Regions from separate parts of the Homo sapiens genome. Here regions 1, 3 and 4 are each reported to be linked to region 2. The links are microRNA targets in miRTarBase. Many come from high-throughput screens and were not tested one by one. Region 2 holds a microRNA gene; each other region holds the end of a gene's coding sequence.

Region 1 (3,657 bases), not on the chromosome of region 2:
GCCCCGGCCCGACCCACAACAGCCCCGAGCTAGGCCGTCCACCGGCTGCTGGCGTCCTGGCCCCAGATATGTCCGACAAGGACAAGTGTTCAGCCATCTTCCGCTCGGACAGCTTGGGGACCCAGGGCCGGCTGAGCCGCACGCTGCCAGCCAGCGCGGAGGAGCGCGATCGGCTGCTGCGCCGCATGGAGAGCATGCGCAAGGAGAAGCGCGTGTACAGCCGCTTCGAGGTCTTCTGCAAGAAAGAGGAGGCCAGCAGCCCTGGGGCAGGGGAAGGCCCCGCGGAGGAGGGCACCAGGGACAGCAAGGTGGGCAAGTTCGTGCCCAAGATCCTGGGCACGTTCAAAAGCAAGAAGTGAGTCTTCTGGCCTGGCAACCCAGGCCAGGGTGCCCGCATCGCTGCCCCGGTCATCCAGAAGCCCCGCGGAACAGAGAGCCCTGCTCATCTGCTTGAGCAGCGGCTGTCAGGCCACGGCCGCTTGGGGCTTGGCTGAGTGCGCCAGACCTCGGCTCCACTGGAGGCTCACCTGGCAGCTGCCGTCTCTGCCCCCTGGCCTCCCCAACGCTGGGGCTGCACCCCTCGCCACCAGTGCCTTTCTCCCCTCAGCACCTTCATCTCTGCACCGTCAGCCTTGCGTGGCGCAGCGTCTGGCTCCGCCATCTCTTTGTGCCTCAGTCCCCCCCGCCCCCTTTATTTTTTTGAGACCTAGGGCTGGAGTGCAGTTGAGCGGTCTGGGCTCACTGCAACCTCTGCCTCCCGGGTTCCAGCGATTCTCCTGCCTCAGCCTCCTGAGTAGCTGGGATTACAGATGTATGCTACCACGCCCAGGTAGTTTTTGTATTTTTAGTAGAGACAGGGTTTCACTATGTTGGCCAGGCTGGTCTCCAACTCCTGGCCTCAAATGATCAGCCCGCTTCAGCCTCCCAAAGTGGGGGGATTACAGGCGTGAGCCTTGCACCCCGCTAAGTCCCCTATCCTCTTGCAAGGGTCTCGCCTCTGTGCCTCAATTCCTCATTCTCTGGGCCCTTCTCCTCCTCAGGGCCTCCTGTTCTCAGGGCCTCCCCCCTCCCCGCTCCCTCCCTCTCTCAAGGTCTCCTCCTTCCCTCCCCCCCCCCCCCCCCCGTCTCCCCCCTCCCCCGCCTGGGCTTCACTTCCTTTCCTACTTGGATTCTCCTGCTCGCTGCCTCCCAGCATCTTTTTTGGAGGCCCGTCTCTTGCTGTGGGGAAGACTGGGCTGGCTGCGGGCAGTTTGCAAGGGGTGGGTGGGGCAGGGGGGGGGGAGCTGGACCAGAAGATGCCCCTTGGAGTGGCAAGGAAGCTGGACAGGGCAGGCCTCTGGGGACGGGACACAGGGAAGCCCGAAGGGGCGCCTTGGCCAGGTCTGCCATCTCCTCCAGCGAGGCTCTGGCCAGCACTGGGTGAGAGTGGGGAGGGGGCATTGGCCTTTGCAGCACAGTAAAACATGGTCCAGACAACCTGTGGCCCCGGCCTCATGAGCACCCCCTGCACAGGCCCGGCCCAAGCCAGGCGCTAGAAGGGCTGGTTGTGGAGTGCTTATCCTTGACAGGTATGGGGCCAGGTGAGGGCAGGGGACAAGGTGCAGCTGAGGCCGAGCCCAACTAGGTCCTGGGCACCCCTGCAGGTGGGAGTGGTCCTTGTCCTCCTGGTATCCAGCAGACACCCCCCTCTCCCCACCAGCCCCATTCTCAGGTCCTTTCCTCTTTGTCACCAACACCAAGAATCTGTCCAGGGTTCTTGGCTTATCTTTTATCTCTTTTCACTCCTAGAGAGGAATTGCAATTGACTCAGAATGACACATTTTGGCACCACGTGTGTAGAAAGCCCCCACTGTTAGATGATAGCCTCGTGAAATTCATGTTTCTGTATTCTCCTATTTCTTTTCAAAAACTAATTTTTTTTTTAGTGTAATAAATCCTAAGAGGGAACTGATTTAAGAAACAAGGCCGCCAAACAAAGGCAGCAGTTCCGACTCCAGCAGCTGGGAAAGGAAGGAAAGTGACCCCACTTTCACTCCTGCACAGCCCACTGGTTACCAAAACCACCGTGCAAGTCGGGATGACAGCAGGGACTTCTGGCCAGGTGGGAAAGGTGCCTGGAAGCGGGATGCGCCTGTGCGTCTCTTGGCCATGATGTTCTTGTGGGCATGTTATTCTTGGTGCTGCCTGGGGTGTTGCTGAGCGGACAGGCTCTCCAGCTGGAGTCCATGGAGAGGCCAGAGGCTGGCGGCCCTGCCTGGGCCTTCGGAGCCTCCTGCCTGCACCCTCCACCTCTTCTAAACCATGATGTGGCACATTTTGGTGTTAATAAAACACAACACACAAAGTATTCTAGCATGTTCCCCAGTGTGTATAATCGCCCAGTTACATCCTGCAGCCTTTAACCACGTGGCCTCCCAGATTTCCCCTGTGGACCCACCACCCACCCCTGTGGGGGGCACTAAAGACCCCCCAGCTCCACTTCCAAGGCCCACCTTGGCCTCCCCAACTTCACGCTGCTCTCCTGTCCCTGTCCCCGATGCCCCCTGTGCAGGCACACTCCTGGGTGCCCACCTGCGATTCCCCACTCAGCAGCCCCACCACACACTGCCCAGCCTGAGGCCAAGCCTCCAACCCTGCAGCCCCGTGGCCTCTCTGCAGCTTCCTCTCCCACAGCCTCTCTGTCCTGCTTGTTCAGCACCCTGGGCCTGCGCCTTGGGCTTTTGAAGCTCAACAAGCACCTCCCTCGGCAGCCCCCTCAGGAAACAGCCCCTGGGCTGGGTCTCTGACTGGCTCACCGCTTCCTCGGGCCCTCCCGATCCCTCCTCCGCCTCCTCCAACCTTCTCCCAAACCCAGCCTCCCTTTCTGAGTCTCTTGCAGGTGCCTGGTCCAGCACCAGGGCAGCGCCAGCTCTCACCTTCTGCTCAGCTCCCCCACCCACATCTTGTCCTTCCCCGCCCTCCCCCATGGTGGCAATGGCTTCCACAACCCAGCAGCGCCCCTCTCCTGGCAGCCCAACACCGACCACAGCACAGGCCGCACCCTTCAAACTGTGAGCTCCTCCGGCCTATGAGCTTCCCAGACTGTGAGCCTGGCAGCCCAACTCCGCCACCGACAGCACAGGCCGCGCCCTTTAGACTGTGAGCTCCTCCAGCCTGTGAGCTTTCCAGCTGCCTCCTTGTGTTCCAACCCCAACCCATGGGCAGGTGCAGCTGAGGACACCTGGCACCCTAGGACACAGGTCTGTGCCCACAGGGCCCCTTTGATCTTTGCAGCCCTGCACAGCCCTGGCCTGAACTCACACCAGGGACCTTGCCTGGGGGTGACAAGAGGAGGTAACCCTGACCTCGCGAGATGTCTGTCTCCCACCCTCACCTACGGAGACCTGAAGACAGATCAGGTGCAGTGGCCATACTAGGGGGCGCAGGCTGCAGTCCCTGACAGCAGGGGGAGGGGTGTCCCCCTTCTCTCTCCCCTTCTCTCCTCTGGCTCAGAGTCACAAACATGGCCAGGGGGTGACCCTACATCCCTACCCCACAGGACCACCCTGGGGGGCAGCCTGGACCCTGAAGCCACAGCAGGTAAGGAAATGATGGACAAAGAACAAGAAGCTGCCCCAGGCAAACCTGGAGGGAAAAGCCCAGTGCTGGATGTGCAGT
Region 2 (3,051 bases):
TGGTCAGCGGTACCCCGGGGTTAGGCATCCTAGACAGCAGCCTGAGGAAGCTGGGAGATTTGGGCCATGTAGCTGCCTTTGTTACTCTATTTATTTTAGTCACTTGTATAAAACACCAAATAAAGCAATAGAGGCAAACTCCCCACGCCTCTGGCTCCTTTCTTTGGGAGGGAGGCAGGCAGCAGGGGGAAAGAACCGTCACACAGGAGCAAAGCATGACTGGCTAGAAATTTTTATTATTTGCGAGGCAGTAAGTGCTCTTGAGAGCAGGCACAGTGCTGGGAACACTAGGCCCCTTCGGGACAAACCAGGGCCTTAAGGAAAGGGGCTTCGGCTTTGGCTTGAGGGAAGGCACATAACTGGGACAGGCCCTGGCCGGGAGTATTCAGAAGCCAAGTGGGTTGCTGGTGACCACACCACCCCGCTCCACCAAGGCCTTGGAGATGCTTTTGAAGTTGCGGTAGAGCTCTTGCTGCCAGGGGTCAGACTGCAGGGCGGCCATGCCCTCTCGGATCCGAGCTGCAGCCTGGGGAGAGGGAAGGAGGGGTTGGGCCTGCACCTCCAGCCCTCACCTGAGCTTGGCAGCCCCGAGTCTCACCTCGATACACCAGGTGTCACAGAGCATTTTCTCATGCTGGGCCGTGGGGTGGCCCTCACTCAGGGATCTTGAGGCCCTGGCAGGAAGCAGGAGATGAAAATAAATCTGGGCCGGCTGGGATCCAGGCCCAGGCCCCCTGCGGCTCAGGCATTCCCTGCCTGCCTCCTCACCTCGAGAGAACCACCACCATGGCATAGAGGTCGATGGCCCCGTCTGCCAGCCGCTGCAGCAGAAACTGTTCATCTGTCCGGTAGGTGGGGTGGGGGTGGGGGTGGGGGCATTAGTCTCAAGGAGAGGAAAGGGAGGGGCGGAATGGTGTAGAGCTCACTTACTGACAATCCCCTTCTTGTGTTTTATCAGCTTGGCCTCCACCACAGTGGCAAACTGCTCCAGAGCCCGTACTGCCTTAAGAGATGGGGACAGTGCGGGGCTCAGAGGGGCCATCGGCTGCAGTCCCTGATGCAGGCTCTCCTGGACCCCTGGCCACTTACCAGCTCGCCACTCCGACTCAACTCCGGGTGGACAAGTCCGCTGAGACTCAGGCCGCTGCCCAGCCCTGCCCGCCTGAGAGGAAGAGGGAGAATGACTGGTTAGTTGCCATACACCACCCTGCCCTCCCCTGGCTCTGGCCCTAAGCCTACCGCCTCAGCTGTTTGCCTGCCTCTCCTAGCAGGAGGCCAGCATTCCCAAAGGGATTCTTTAGAGCACTGCCAAGCCCAGAGAGCTCCTTTCCTTTGTCCTATGGGGGAAGAGGGTCCAGCAGTCAGGACTCACTGTCCTCCCCACCTCTACCCCCACCCAATTCTCTGTCTTACCATACAGCCCTGCAGAGCCACAAACAGCCGAAGAATGTCATTTGTCCCCTCAAAGATCCGGAAGATGCGAAGATCTCGGAGCACACGCTCTACTCCAGGTTCCTAGCACAGGGCCACACAAATTATATGCCCGTGCTGAGATGTGCCTACCCACCCCTGGCCCAGCCGAGGCTCTGCAGAAGACCGTCCTGTACCTTCATGAAGCCCATACCCCCCATGATTTGGATGCATTCATCTGTCACCTTCCAGGCTGCCTCCTAGGGACAAAGAACAGATGAGACTGGTTTTGGGAGCTGAGCACCCAAACTGGACTCCCTCCCAGCATGCCTGGGACCTCACCGAGCCAAAGATTTTGCTGATGGCGGCCTCTATCTGGAAGTCCGTGGCTCCCTGGTCCATGTTAGCACTCACCATGTAAGCCATGGACTGAGGTTGCATAGTTGGGACATGGGAAGGAAAATTGCAAAGGGCTTTGTCAGACTTGGCCTCATCACCCAGATCTCCAAGATAAGGGCTGACCTAGCTTGTCAGGTCAGGCAGATACTTGTTCTGGGTCAGTTCATCAGGTGCTTCCAGGTATTTGTTTTCTTAAAAGGGGTGGATGTAAGGGATGAGGTAGAATTAACTTCTGGTACTGCTGGCAGGCACCTGAGCAGAACATCATTGCTGTCTCTCTTCGCAGAAGCTGAGCTGACTATGCCTCCCCGCATCCCCTAGGGCATTGGTGTAAAGCTGGAGACCCACTGCCCCAGGTGCTGCTGGGGGTTGTAGTCTGACCCGACTGGGAAGAAAGCCCCAGGGCTCCAGGGAGAGGGGCTTGGGAGGCCCTCACCTCAGTTACATACTGCAGCATAACCATCCGTGCCAGCTTCTCCTGGATCAGCCCAAAGTTGTGAATTTTCTCCCCAAACTGGGTACGATTAGTGGCATGATCTACCTGGAAGAGGGTCCACACATCCCGCTGTGGTTCAGTGTGGTTCTGCAGTCTCCCTAGGAGAGGGGCTGGGCTTGCGCCAGAGGGATGGGTTTTGCATACAACCAGAGTTCAGTCTACGCTGGATGGAGACCTAAGCTAGCAAGTCGGGCTGCTGGTAGGGGAGGAGTTTCTAGTGTAGGGAGTGCCTGCAAGTGATCAGGGACACATGGCAAGGGGGACAGTGAGACTTCTGTTTGGGTTACCTAGGGACTCGGGCAGGGTACTCACCGCCTTAGCAATGATGCCTCTCATGGTACCTGCCAGGGCCGCAGCCATGCCAAACCTTCCATTGTTGAGGATGTGCATGGCAACCTTGAAGCCACTCCCAACCTCACCCAGCACGTTCTCCGATGGCACCCGTACTCCATCAAAGAACACCTCTGCTGTGTTTGAAGCCTTGATGCCCATCTTCTTCTCAGGGGGCCCACTGTGTCAGGGCAGTGTGGGAAAGCAGAGGTGTGTTCAACAGGTTGTCACTGGGGGAAAAACTGCTCCTTCGCTCCTTATGCACCAGGGAGGAATGACGACCACTAGACTATTAGAGGCTACAGCCACCACTTCCCCTCAGGCCCTGAGGGCTAAGGAGGCCTGGCTATGTCCTATTTTGTGTTGGACTTGGTTGCTGGAGCCAAAACTTTAGCTCAGTTGCATACATATTAGTC
Region 3 (3,657 bases), not on the chromosome of region 2:
TTTTGGTTACCTCCTTTAGGGTTGGATGAGTGAATGCAGGAATCAATGAATGGGTGGATAATGGAATCCATGTATCCATCAGCCAGTAGTTTCCTGCAGCAGAACCACCCTGAGCACTTGTTAAAACACAGCTTATTGGCTGGACAGAGGTTCACACCTGTAATCCCAGCACTTTGAGAGGCCAAGGCAGGAGGATCTCTTGAGCCTAGGAGTTCGAGACCAGCCTAGGCAACATAGTGAGATCCCGTCTCTATAAAAATCATTTTAAAAAATAACTGGGCTTGGTGGCACTCGCCTGTAGTCCCAGCTACTCGAGAGGCTGAGGTGGGAGTATCACTTGAGCCTGGAATTCAAGGCTGCAGTGAGCTGAGATCGCACCACCGCACTCCAGCCTGGGCAAGAGCGAGACCCTGTCTCAGAAAAACACAAAAAACAAAACACAACTTGTTGGGCTCCACACCCAGTTTCTGATTCAGTCCTTGGGGGAAAGGGACGAGGCGGGGGGCGGGGGGGCAAAAAGAATCTGCATATCTCACAAGGTGGAGGTTCATGCTGTTACTGATCAGGTACCACACCCAGAGAACCACTGGCACAAGCCATCGGATACTTAGACCACGATAACTGTGGCTGCAAATTTTCTGCCTGATCCTGCCAAATAGCTCACACACGCAGTTGAAAATAAATCCTCTGACTCAGTGTTTGGGGGGTGTTGTGGGTGGACTGCCCACTCGACCTCCCATCACTTTCCTGGGTAGTAGTGTTAGATGTGAGTGTTGGAGCACGAATGGTGGTGGGTGTGCACGCGTGTGCACACCAGCTGTACTGCTGTCCCTTTGCACACCTCTAGTGCTGACCGCTGACCTTCTCCAGGTTCTCTCTCCTTTGCTCCCCAGAGCCCTTCTGAGTCTTCTTAGCCAGCGAAGAAGAGTAAGTGAACATCTAAGATCACAAAGAACCCTCTATTGTCTCCTGGGATTTGGTGCCATCTAGTGGCTAACTTGAGAATCTTTGCTCAGACTTAGAGAAACTTCTGGAAAATTAACTAAGTAGCCTGGGAAGGCAAAAACACCTACTTGTTTACCCTCTGAGAAAGGCTTCCTGAAGGGCAAGGACTGGCTCAACATGATAGGAGTCAAAATGGATTTCTTGCTCTCCTGAAAGCTGTGATAAAAATTAGAAGTCATCAAAGAATCTCAATCACGTCTCACTGCATCTTCAGCTTGAATGATTTTCTAGAATTGATTTTCATTTCCTGAATGAAACGGAGTCAGGTAATACCAACTTGGTATTTGCCTCCCATCTCATTTCTCTGGGCCCCAAGCCCTGAACAGCCCAAGTATAGCAATCCAGTCCCCAAGGGGTCAGTGAAACTACAGAGATCTGTAGTTCACGGTACAGTTGGTACTGATAAGAGGGACATCAGGGCCTTAAAGTTATTGAGGGGTGGAATTGTTAATGACCACTGTGATCCAGACAGAAATCTAAGATATCAGCACACAATGCCACAGCAGCTCAAAATCCTCATTAAGAGGTGCGAGGTATTGTAAATATGTGGTTTGGACTTTAACAGAAAATTTAAACTACTTGTTATGGGAACAAAGGGGAGGCAATCAGGGATCATAAAGGAAGCTGCTCCTTAAAGTTGCTGTTTGGGGAACTGTGATGGGTCTCAAAACGTGGTCTTGAGACCAGCAGCATCAGCACATTCTCAAGCAACATCCCAAAACTACTGAATTGGAAACTCTAGGGATGGGGCCTAGAAATGAATGTTTAAACAACCCCTGCAGATGATTCTGATGCACATGAATGTTTGAGAACCGCTGGTTTAAGATAAGCTTTAGATGCCCTAAAATACACCTGAGAGTGTTTATAGAGAATCTACTAATGAATTCATGGAGGAGACAATTTATTTCCATAACATAAACCTGCTTCTTTTTTATGTTTTGTTTTTAACACATAATTGTAAGCCTACTTCTTTTTAAACATACAAACGTGCCTTCTAGTTTGTGGTGAAATAAAAAGGATTATTTATTTGCTTTCACTTCTTTGGATTTTAGAGAATACTATCTTGGTAAGTACAGTCTCCAAAAGTAGCTCAATAGTCCTGTAGACATGGTAAGTTTTTTTTAAAAAAGAATGTACAACTTTAATATTAATCAAAAAAATACAAATTAAAATAGCAATGAGATATCATTTCTCAACTAAAAAACTGGCAAAGTTCAAAAAGAATAATGTGCATCAATAAGGAGGGTATAAGGGGGAAAATAAAACACACACTCCAAGTAGAAAGATAAAGTACCAGAATCTTTCTGGTAACACAAATCAGAAGCCTTAAAAATGAGTATATCTTTGACTCAGCAATCCCATTTCTAGGGATATATCTTAGAAATAATTAATGATATATGCAACAATGAACATATAAAGATGCTAAATATCATTTATAATTTTAAAATTAAAAATCTTAACTTTGAGGGAATTGTAAAGTCAATCAGTGTGCCCATATGACAGAACATAATAAAAATCAATCAGTTCAAGATTTTTTCCAGTTTTTAAAAGGAAGATTTATTTAACAAGTTTCACTTAGTACAATACATCTAAATGGAAATCACAATACAAGGAAAGATTTAAACCAAAGCCTCAGATTTTCATACAAACGACACGACCAAACTTCTAAAGTATTGGTATTACATCTTAAAATTGTCCCGTATCCTTAAAAAAAAAAAAAGTGTACACTCACGTGCCTTACAGGATATTAAACCAAAAAGCTAGAATTAACAAACATGCCAAATGTTTTCACTTTGAATCGTAGACACAGCTCCTATATTTGAGTTTTACAGAAAGGCATGTTTCTCAACATGCATCCGAAGTTTTCAATGTATTTGTGGTATAAGAGCAACATTTAACATAAGTGAAACTGCATTAACCTAAATACGCTTACTGCTTAGGTACACTCCTACAACATAACTAACTTGAGGAAAGCTAAAAATTGTTTTAACAGTTATGGTCAATACTGAACTTTGTTATTATGTCCTAGATGAATGTTTCAGTGTTCAAAATTACTGAGCTTGAAGTTTTAAAATAATCTCAACTTCCACTTTACAGTAAGCATGAATCACAAGCCTGTAATGCAAAACTGTTAAACTTAACTCGTTTTCTTAAAAAAGGAGAAAGAAAGATAAAGAAAGAGAAGCTGACCAAGAGTGATCAGAATCAATTATATTTCCCATTTACCAATCATACTGGATATACTAAACATCCCTCCCATTCTATTCAACTCCCACAAATGTACAGCTTTTATATCTGGAGTAGCTATTTAGTGCTCCTTCTCTACCTAAGCAAGGTTTGACTGATAGTCACTGGAGTTTTCCTGCAGAACTTGGTCATATCCACTCATACTGCTCTGACCACCATAACCACCTCCATAACCACCACTCAGCTGCTGGCTAGCAGGACCTCCATAACTAGACTGGTTGGATAAGCCCATCCCTCCCATCATTTGGCTACCATAAGCGCCACCACTTGCCCCTGCTGTAGAATTCAAAAAAAGTTCTACATAGCTGTGATCGTAAGCACCCCCACTTGTTCCTGCAGTAGAATTTAAGAAGAGCTCCACATATCTGTGTTGCATATTAGCTTTGTCTTTTGCCATAGCTGCCA
Region 4 (3,657 bases), not on the chromosome of region 2:
ACACACCGGTCTCTGCTGGCCCCAGGGCTCCTTCCTGTGCGACTGGATCTTGCTAACATTCATGAACAAAAACAAGGTCTACAGCCATAAGAAATTTGACAAGGTGTGTACGCCGAGCCACCCCTCAGGTAGCTGGCCTGTGACCCTTGCCCGTGTATTGGGCCAGGCCCCTCCCGAACCCGGCCACCGCTCCGAGGACCAGCACCCCAGCCCTCCATCAGGCCAGGAGGGCCAACAAGGGGCAGAGTGTGGCCCAGCCTTCCCGCCCCTGCGGCCTTGCCCCATCTCTGCCCCTTCTGAGCAGATGGTGGACACTCCTGCCTCCGAGCCTGCCCAAGCCTCCACACCCACAGACCCCAAAGGTTTGGCTCAACTCTGAGCTCCTTTCCATCTCACTGGACTGCAGACCCGGCCTGGTGGGGCCAGAGAGTCCCCAGCTAGGGACCTGCACGTGGACGTGGGCACCTCAGTAGCGGAGCATCTCCACGAAACGGGGCACCACAGGATCCCTGTGCAAGGGCTGGGGGCACGCTCTGGCCCCAGGCTTGTGCCCCACCCTGGCATACAGCCCCTGACACCTCCTCCCCAGCTGGTCCCTACAGGGCTGCTCACTTCCCATCACCTCTCACAGCCACCTGGAACCCAAGCCAGCTGAGCTCTGAGGGGCTCTGCTCCCGGTCTTGGGCCCTGGGAACCCCACCCCACCCCACCCCACAGGCGTTGTAACCTTGAATCTGCCCAGACTCTTCCCTTAGAAGTCACAACATACTCAGTCCAATAAACCTGTGAGCAGAACCTTCTGGCCTCGTTCCTTGGGGAGGAGCATCGTGAGCCTGTCAATATGGGATGTCAGGCCCTGTCGGCCTGGAGCTGGGCTGCACGGTGACCTCTGTCTGGGTCATCTCCCCTCTAAGCAGCCTGCGAGGTGTGCAGGGCACATGTCTGCCTGCCCCATGACACATGGTCCCCACAGCCAGCCAGGCCACGGTCAGGTCTGCCCAGGCTGGGAGTGCACTGGGACCCAGGCCACCTCCTCAGTGCACTTGCTTCTGACAGGGCCACCCCAGACTCCAAACCAAAGCTGGCTCATCTCAAAATGTGGGAGGACAGCATGACTCAGGAAGAGAGAAATAGGAGGGAGGCCGGGACAGCTGCACACAAGGAAAACGAAAGCTCAGACTACAGCAGTGCTCAGACCAGTGTTCATTCCTACTCCATGGGAGGGGGCAGGAATGCCGAGATGGGAAGTCAGGCCAGGCGGGGGTGGAAGGACACCAGCCCGGGAGCCAGCACTAACTGCATCAGGGCCTGGGGGTAATCTGGTTACTGCATCCTCAGATGCTGCAGTGGTTAGACTGGTGCCCACTGGGTGGGGGGAGGAGCCCAGAACAGCGTCATGATGTCACCTGTGCCAGTGACAGATGACATCCTGCCTCTGAAGGGAAACCCAGTCTCAGGAGAGCAACACCACGCCCAAAGGTCAAAGAGCGGAGAAGGGCGGGTAAGACGACCCTGGTCTGACCCTAAAGCCTGAGTTTGGAGGTCTCAGCACAACTCCAGAGTCCTCATCCCAGCGCTGTGTTCAGGTGGCGAGAACATGTCTTCCGTGGGCCCCATTTCCCTTGACTGTGGCCTCCCAGCCTCGGGCATCGGCCTCAGGTCACCCCACGGCCTGCACATGCTGTGTGGCTCACAAATATCCAGCTCATTTTTGGAGAAACTGGCTCTTCTGGTTGAGCCGCTGCTTGGGAACCAGGGCCAGAGCTTCCCGTTTCTGACCCCTCCACCACTACTCAAATGCCCGCAGCTAGCCTCACAGTGAACCCAGGCTGACTGGCGCCCACGGCTGCACCGGGCGACCCCTGGTCCTGCTAGGTGGCCTTCCTGGGGGACGAGCGGCTGTCCCCTGGCCCCATCACTCCTCATTCCTGAGGGTTCTCCAGATTCGCTTCCAGGAATGAAGCCTAGTCAGCCAGCCTCCCTCCTCCCCTGCTTGCCCTAATTTGATTTGATCTCCACTCTGGAGGCCTCAGCACTCCTCCATCTGAGCAGGCATCAGGTTTCTCCAGGCAGGCGGCCCCAGCAGCATCCAGGGGCCAAACACGTGCCCAGTGGTACCCAGTCCCCGATCTGAGGCGCTCTGCACAAATACACAGTGACAACCTAGAGAAACTTCAGTATGAAATACAAATAAAAACAAAGTGTAGCAGCGATGGCCTCAGACAGTAGATGGCAGGGACAAACTAAGGCTGGCTCTGGGCCAAAGACACGAGCCTCCTGGGGAGCCTGTGGGGCCCCCTCCCTCCTGTGAGGCTCTCGTCTGGGGTGTCTGCATTTCTGATTTACATTTCATACTTGTTTGGTGCCCTGTGAAATTGGCCTTTCTTCTTTCTGCTTCCAGCTGGTCCTGTGTGGAGGTGAAGGACAAGGGCTGCAGTGAGCCAAAAGTGAGGTGCACAGAGGTCTTGTTTTCCTGAGGCTGATAGAGGGTTCCCTCTAGACCCGGCTCCAAATAAGCAGGGCTCACAAGCCAAAATCCAGATTCTCACGGGTTAGGGTCTGGATTCCTGGGGAAACCAGCCCACAAACTGCTCCTGTGAGGCTGTGGGGCCAGCCCATTTCTCCATGCAAACAGGTGAGACTCCAGCCCCACCAGGGCCTTGGGAACCCGTCTCGTCTCAGAGCCCAATCTCAGGGAGCCAGAAGCCCCCAGGGGCTTTTCCTCCCTCTGGGAGGCAGGACAAAGAACTAGGGGCACCTAGAGGACGCTCCCACCCCACCAGGTGTGGTGCAGGAAGCAACAGAGGCCTGGAAAAGCATTCACTGCGTGAGAAACGGCGCCCAGGGCACTCGCAGCCTCGCTCACGGCCTGCTTCTTCAGGTGCTCTGGCGAGGCCAGGGCCACATCCTGCTCCCGCTCCCTCCTGTGACGTCTGAGCTCCCTGAAAATGGTTTTCTTTGGTTTCCTCCCCGTTCCCTGGCCTGGGGTCACAGGTTTGGACAGTCAGGGTGGTCAGTGGTCTGGTCACTGGAAGCACGGGGATGTGGCCTTGGCATCAGGAGGCCTGGCACGGACGCAGAGGCACCCGGGGCCCGGGGCTGGCTAATGGCCCAGCTGTGGGTTCTTCTGCAGCAGCCACTCCAGGGTCTCCAGGAGGTACGACATGCCGTAGTGCTGGGCAATGTTCCGGAATATTCCGATCTGTTCCATGAAGACCTGCAGGAATAAACAGGCACAGTGAGACCCCAGTCCACTCAGAGAGGAGGCCAAGGAGGCCAGGCTGAGCCGAGGCAGATGAGGGAGAGCCCACCTGGGTGTGGATGGTGAGGGCGAAGTCTCCCGCGCAGCTGCAGTACACAGGCATGCTGGTCTCCTTCACCCCGCGGCACTTCAGGCAGACCTGAAAGGGAGCAGCCCCGATGGGCGCCAGCCCTCCCGCGCTGGCCAGACCTGCCTGCTGCTTCTTCACAGGCTCGCGAGACACATTCGTGGGCCCATCAGTAAGCCTCGAGCCCCTGCTGTGTGCAGCCAGCCCTCGGTTATGAGTAAAATGCACGACCTCATCCCACGGTGCCAGCGCCTTCCCTACACCCACCCTCGCTGTGGATGTTCCACCCCAGATGCCCAGTCCTGAGGCCTCCTCCAGGCCCTGCTCA

What was found. Region 2 holds the annotated microRNA hsa-miR-324-5p (CGCAUCCCCUAGGGCAUUGGUG, at 2,119-2,140, shown strand). A microRNA usually pairs through its seed, bases 2 to 8, with sites in the 3' UTR of a target mRNA and lowers its output. Matches are read on the target gene's strand: a 7mer-m8 pairs with bases 2 to 8, a 7mer-A1 pairs with bases 2 to 7 and ends in A, and an 8mer does both.
Region 1: miRTarBase lists FAM83H as a target of hsa-miR-324-5p. Seed matches in the 3' UTR shown: 7mer-m8 at 2,123-2,129.
Region 3: miRTarBase lists HNRNPH2 as a target of hsa-miR-324-5p. Seed matches in the 3' UTR shown: 7mer-A1 at 2,857-2,863.
Region 4: the mRNA of POLE is a reported target of hsa-miR-324-5p. The part of its 3' UTR that is shown has no 7-base or 8-base seed match.

The regions. Positions count from the first base shown.
Region 1 is chr8:143,722,623-143,726,279 of GRCh38, reverse strand. FAM83H (family with sequence similarity 83 member H) reads left to right here. Exons shown (of 5, transcript NM_198488.5): 5 at 1-2,347. The coding sequence ends at 359. Among named protein-coding and RNA genes, the nearest start is that of MAPK15, 8.1 kb to the right of the region's middle. RefSeq lists an enhancer at 2,656-3,157.
Region 2 is chr17:7,222,432-7,225,482 of GRCh38, reverse strand. It overlaps MIR324 (microRNA 324), which reads left to right and starts at 2,104; the gene lies at 2,104-2,186. It overlaps ACADVL (acyl-CoA dehydrogenase very long chain), which reads right to left. Exons shown (of 20, transcript NM_000018.4): 10 at 2,618-2,816; 11 at 2,246-2,350; 12 at 1,753-1,839; 13 at 1,608-1,670; 14 at 1,414-1,515; 15 at 1,240-1,337; 16 at 1,090-1,162; 17 at 931-1,003; 18 at 769-841; 19 at 599-674; 20 at 217-526. The coding sequence ends at 386. It overlaps DVL2 (dishevelled segment polarity protein 2), which reads left to right. Exons shown (of 15, transcript NM_004422.3): 15 at 1-141. RefSeq lists an enhancer at 28-527.
Region 3 is chrX:101,413,013-101,416,669 of GRCh38, reverse strand. HNRNPH2 (heterogeneous nuclear ribonucleoprotein H2) reads right to left here. Exons shown (of 2, transcript NM_019597.5): 2 at 2,537-3,657. The coding sequence ends at 3,332. It overlaps RPL36A-HNRNPH2 (RPL36A-HNRNPH2 readthrough), which reads right to left. Exons shown (of 4, transcript NM_001199974.2): 4 at 2,537-3,657. Among named protein-coding and RNA genes, the nearest start is that of HNRNPH2, 6.6 kb to the right of the region's middle.
Region 4 is chr12:132,621,594-132,625,250 of GRCh38, forward strand. It overlaps POLE (DNA polymerase epsilon, catalytic subunit), which reads right to left. Exons shown (of 49, transcript NM_006231.4): 48 at 3,312-3,401; 49 at 2,169-3,217. The coding sequence ends at 3,104. It overlaps P2RX2 (purinergic receptor P2X 2), which reads left to right. Exons shown (of 11, transcript NM_170682.4): 11 at 26-795. The coding sequence ends at 379. Among named protein-coding and RNA genes, the nearest start is that of P2RX2, 4.6 kb to the left of the region's middle.